2 separate regions of the Homo sapiens genome follow, and region 1 is linked to region 2. Evidence: fine-mapped expression QTL. A gene starts in region 2. The other region holds a variant in brackets. All regions are shown on one strand. Distances are between the middles of the regions. Region 1 overlaps PYM1 (PYM1 exon junction complex associated factor). Region 2 holds the start of DGKA (diacylglycerol kinase alpha).

Evidence for each region. PIP is the estimated chance that this variant, and not a neighbour inherited with it, causes the effect. A credible set is the group of variants that fine-mapping cannot tell apart.
Region 1: its variant is the best candidate, but not a certain one, in a credible set for the expression of DGKA in tibial nerve (GTEx, PIP 0.71).

What each region holds. Positions count from the first base shown.
Region 1 is chr12:55,899,311-55,902,214 of GRCh38, forward strand. PYM1 (PYM1 exon junction complex associated factor) reads right to left here. Exons shown (of 3, transcript NM_032345.3): 3 at 2,103-2,904. The coding sequence ends at 2,562. It also overlaps the pseudogene GSTP1P1. Among named protein-coding and RNA genes, the nearest start is that of PYM1, 27 kb to the right of the region's middle. The variant C/T (reference allele first, on the strand shown) is at 1,691.
Region 2 is chr12:55,929,876-55,932,779 of GRCh38, forward strand. It overlaps DGKA (diacylglycerol kinase alpha), which reads left to right and starts at 1,287. Exons shown (of 24, transcript NM_001345.5): 1 at 1,287-1,469.

The DNA.
Region 1 (2,904 bases), 31 kb before region 2:
GGTATGGAAACCAGAGGACATGTAAAAATTAAGTGACAGATCTTTTGGGTGTAAGTTCCTCTACATGTATCACTAATTTGCCCCACAATGCCATCTTGGGGTGGCATCTAAGAAGGTGAAATTTCAAAAGAGTTGTCCTAGGTGCAGCTGTGAAATAAGATTATCTTCAGAAACAGTAAGGAAGGTACAGAACTCCCGTTGCTATTCAGCACACTAATGGCAACATATAAATTAACATGTCAAGTTAAATTTGTTCTAAGTTTCATTTGATTATAACACTAATTCGTCTACTGAAGTCTCAGCAAACATGCAGAAATTAGTGTTGCTAATTTGGTCATAAACTCACAATTTTTAAAAATTAAATACCTCTGGCCGGGTGCAGTGGCTCACGCCTGTAATCTCAGCACTTTGGGAGGTTGAGACAGGTGGATCACCTGAGATCAGGAGTTCGAGACCAGCCTGGCCAACATGGTGAAACCCCATCTCTACTAAAAATAAAAATAAAAATAAAAATAATTAGTCAGGCGTGGTGGTGCACGCCTGTAATCCCAACTACTCAGGAGGCTGAGGCAGGAGAATCGCTTGAACCCAGGAGGTGGACATTGAAGTGAACTGAGATCATGACACTGCACTCCAGCCTGGGCAACAAGAGCAAAACTCCATCTCAAAAAAAAAAAAATTAAATACCTCAGGCTGGGCTCGGTGGCTCACGCCTGTAATCCCACTTTGGGAGGCCAAGGCAGGTGGATCACCTGAGGTCAGGAGTTCAAGACCAGCCTGACCAACATAGTGAAACCCAGTCTCTACTAAATACAAAAAATTAGCCAGGCTTGGTGGTGGGCACCTGTAATCCCAGCTACTTGGGAGGCTGTGGCAGGAGAATCACTTGAACCCGGGAGGCGGAGGTTGCAGTGAGCCGAGATTGCACCATTGCACTCCAGCCTGGGCAACAAGAGGGAAACTCTGTCTCAAAAATAAAGTAAATAAATAAATACCTCACCCTCATCTATACCAACTACGAGGTGGGCAAGGGTGACTTATGTGAAGGCACTCCCCAGGCAACTGAAGCCTTTTGAGACCCTGCCGTCCCAGAACCAGGGAGGATAGGCCTTCATTGTGGGCGACCAGATATCCCTCGCTTACTACAACCTGCTGGACTTGCTGATCCATGAGGTCCTGGCCACCAGCTGCCTGGATGTGTTCCCCCTGCTCTCGGCCTACATGGCACACCTCAGCGTCCGGCCCAAGCTCAAGGCCTTCCTGGCCTCCACTGAGCACCTGAACCACCCCATCAATGGCAACGGGAAACAGTGAGGGCTGGGGGGACACTCGGCGGGAGGCAGGGGCCGTTTGCCTCCCTTTCTCCAGGACCAACGAAGTTTCTAAGAGAAAAAAAAAAAATTAAAAGAAATATTGGGCTGGGTGTGGTGGCTCACACCTGTAATCCTAGCACTTTGGGAGGCTGAACTGGGTGGATCACCTGAGGTCAGGAGTTTGAGACCAGCCTGGCCAACATGCTGAAACTGTCTCTACTAAAAATACAAAAATTAGAGGGGGTGTGGTGGTGGGTGCCTATAATCCCAGCTACTCGGGAGGCTGAGGCAGGAGAATTGCTTGAACCCGGGAGGCAGAGGTTGCAGTGAGCTGAAACCGCGCCACTACACTCCAGCCTGGCAGACAGAGCGAGACT[C/T]CATCTCACAAAAAAAGAAAAAGAAAAAAATATATATCGGCTGGGCACAGTAACTCATGCCTAAAATCCCAGCACTTTAGGAGGCCAAGGTGGGTTGATCACCTGAAATTAGGAGTTCAAGACCAGCCTGGCCAACATGGTGAAACCCCATCTCTACTAAAAAATTAGCCAGGTGTGGTGGTGGGCACCTGTAATCACAGCTACTCGGGAGGGAGGCTGAGGCAGGAGAACTGCGTGAACTCAGGAGACAGAGTTTGCAGTGAGCCCAGATTACGTCACTGCACTCCAACCTGGGCAACAGCACAAAACTCTGTCTCGAAAAGAAAAGAAATCACTCCCAATACTTGTCTTCCTGTGCCAAACTCAGGAGATACAATATCTACTAGGAGCTGAAAATAAGGAGGCAAAGCCAGACATGTCTACTTGTGTTTATTCTCATTTTTGCTTTTTTTAAAAAAAAAAAAAAAATGAGGGATGGAGAGGGAAATAACCCATAAACACCGCGAACAGGAACCAAGACTCCAAGACTTGGGCATACTCCCTCTACCCTCAGCCTCAGTTCTCCAAGAGATTCCCACCCACCTGATTTTCTTTTAAACAAGACACCCAAATCAGCAGCAAAGGTACCTGGGGTAGTCACTGAGATTTTGAACACTGGGAATGGGAGGGGGAAAGTCCAAAAAGTAGAAGTTGGGAAGAAAAGGGAAGGATTGAGGGAGACGCTAGGCTCTGGAGGACAGAGCTGGGCCGCAGGAGGTGGAAGTAAGCCAGTATGGGGGGTACCCCTCCTGACTGCTGTTGCCCGTATTCCCCCAGACCCCAGAGAGCCCCACGGTTTGTTCTGCAGTCCATTCCCTATTCCCCAAAGGCCTCAGAGGCCTAACTCCAAGTCCTCTAACTCCTCTTCTAGCGCCCTCCTCCTTGCTAGCTTTTCTAGCTGCTCTTTGCTAGGCTGGCTGACTTCCCCAGCCTGGATCCGCTGCTGCAGCTCTTCCACCTGCCGGAGTTTCTTCTTTAGGTTCTTTATCTTCTTGGCTTTCTCAGTGGTGGCAGCTGAGTCAGGCTGGTCAGATGCAGCTGTGGGGGCTGCCCGAGAGCCCTGTGGAGCACTGGGGAGTTGGGCTGTCTCTTCCAGGGACACCTTATCAAGAGTCCTGCTCAAGGCCTCTGCCTCTCCTTTCTCTTGCTGCTGCCGCCTCTTCTCCTTTCGCTTC
Region 2 (2,904 bases):
ACTTTGAAGTACCAAAAACTATCTTAAAAGGAGTGTCTTCAACTTTATTTAGGGACATATCTAAAGACGATAGAGTGAGAAACACAGGTAATACATAGGGTGGCATTACTTTGAGCATTCTTTGCAAGGAAAGCTGAGTGCCTTAGAGATTAATATCGTTCCAAGATTTCTAAATGAAAGATCCAGGGACAGAAAACTGATAGGCAGAGGTGTTAGGGGACCTATTCTTACATTGTATGTTTGTTTAAAGTAGCTCAGAGCAGAGAGGCTTTACACACATTGCACCACTCATTGATATAGTCCCTAAACTGGACTATGTTTTTGCTTGTATTGCAGAACTAAGTACAGGACTTAGTGTATAAAAGGCCTTCAGAAGAGTTTGTTTACTATGACTAAGGAGGTCATAGAGGAAGGAGAGATGAAGCTTTGCTAACAGTGAAGAAAATACTGTAAAGACAGGATGGGGAGTGTCAAGGGCCTTGTTTTTTTTTTTTTTTTTTTTTTTTTTTAGACAGAGTTTTGCTCGTGTCACCCAGGCTGGAGTGCAGTGGCATGATCTCGGCTCACTGCAACCTCTGCCTCCCAGGTTCAAGCGATTCTCCTGCCTCAGCCTCGCGAGTAACTGGGACTACAGGCATGTGCCACCACGCCCGGCTAATTTTTTGTATTTTTAGTAGAGACAGGTTTTCACCGTGTTAGCCAGGATGGTCTCAATCTCCTGATCTCGTGATCCGCCTGCCTCAGCCTGCCAAAGTGCTGGGATTACAGGTGTGAGCCACCGCGCCCGGCCTTTGGCCCTTGTCTTTTTATGATTGGGGGTGAGAGGGTGAGACTTGGAGGGGCACAGGAGCAGAGAGACAGACCCCTCTTCAACCTATGCCCGAAATCTCCAGTTTGGATACAACAATACTCCCAAACCCTATTACTCAGCAGCTATATTTCTGGCAAATGTGGAGGAGTCTGTTCCAACAAGCCTGTCTTGAAACAATCAAGAACTGCTTAGATATCCCTGTTTCCACTAGAGGGCCTCATGTATTCATTCCCTTTCCAACCCCCACCAAAAGTATGTATATATTATGTGTGTGTATGTATGCATACACAATACCCACACATGCATATACCCTTCTAGTCAGAGGTCTCCCCTCCCCCTTCTTCCCACCCCCAGGTGTAAGAAGGACGATTCCAGGAACCTAAGGCTTTGTTACTCTGCCCCATTTTCAATGAAGGGTAGGAGGGAGTTAGACAGGGGTTGGGGCGGGGCCAGTGAGCAGGATGCCTGGGTCTCCAGTTCCTGCCAGTGAGTCCCTAGGCCTCCATCTCTCTCCCTTGCTGTACCACCTTCACCACCATCCATGCGACCCCAAGAGCCTTAATGACTCTAGAAGAGACTCCAGGCAGGGGAAGCTGAAAGGACCTTTCACTCCCTACTTTTGGCCAGGGCCTTCTGTGCCACCTGCCAAGACCAGCAGGTAAAGTGGGAGGATGAGGGCGTGGAGAAAGGGTGGACATAGACCAAAGTGCAAAACTCCACCCTAGAATTAAGGAGAGAACATGAGTCTTGACAGGAGGTGTCCTTAGACTGGGGAAAATAGGTCTAAAAGGAAAGAGGAACGTGAAGAAGGTGGGGAGATTGTCTCAAGCAGGGTAGAGCCCGGGGCGGGAGGGAGGTGTTTGGTCAGGTTGTGGAGTTTGGGACTCTGGGCTTGCCCCCGTGGGATCTCCTGAGTGTGAAGTCAGTGGTGGATGGAAGGGAGTTGGTTAGGGAAGTTCAGGATGGCAGCAATCAGGAGAGAATGAGACGTTGGTTGGGTGCCCAACTGCCGAGCTGTTCTGTTAGCGGCCCGCCCGGTATCTTGGTCTCCCAGGTTTGGGATGAAGGGAGAGGCTGTGAGTGATTAGAAAGAAGGGAAAATAGAAGCAGAGCTGCCGCCGGCGCGGGAAGAAGATGAGGAGCGCAGCAAATGGAGAAAATGTGTCCAAAGCCCCGGACATATTCGAGGGAGGGTGGAGCAGGTTATGGTGAACTGGAAACCTAGAAACGGGCCTCTCCAACTTCGAAGTTCCCAGAGTCGGGGGCGCCGGGCGCGGGCGCGGCGGGCAGGCTGGGGTGGGGGGCGGGCAGCTATGTCGTCAGGAACGGGGCGGCCCCGCTGCGGCCGCGTCTGCCTGGCCCGTCCCCTCCAGCCCAGCTCGGGCTCCAGCTCCAGCGCCGGCGCTTCAGCTGCGACCGCGAGCCCTCTCAAGCAAGGTAGAGACCCCGCGAGCCCCCCAGCGCCCCACCCTCCCCCATCGGAAAAGGACAGGGGTAGGGAAGCCGAGGACCCACGGGCTGCGTTCGTGCTGCTGGGTCGGGAAGGAGGAAGCGTGACAGCTGGAGCGGGTATCGAGAAGGGTCTGCGCTGGGACGCGGGGGTGCAGCGGGAGGGCTGGGCCCGAACCCGGTGGGTAACGTTTCCCAGACCTTCCCCTCCATCCCTCCCGCTCATTCGGAGGGATGGTGAAGCCCGGTTCCTGGGACCCGACTCGGAGGGAAGTCCTCTTCGGAACCTCCACAGTGCCGCACGGGTGGAGAAGGGTTCTTGTTTGGCCTCCAGGTCCCCAACTTCCCACCCCATCCTCTCCCCACCTGTCACTGGGAAGTTTCTGAAAATACCTGAGTCTGAATCTCACTTTTCACCTTGATAGGAGAAATGAGCCTTCCTGAGGAAGAATGGCAAATATTACTGGGCATCTCTTCAGCCTCAGCACAGACAAGCCCACATCCCCCAACCATGCCAGTATCGTAACTTCCTCCTATACTACGCAATGACACCCTCTACACACACACACACACGCACACACACACACACACACACACACACACACAACCCCCTCAGCCAGGTGTAGCACTGCAGTCTTCAGTGT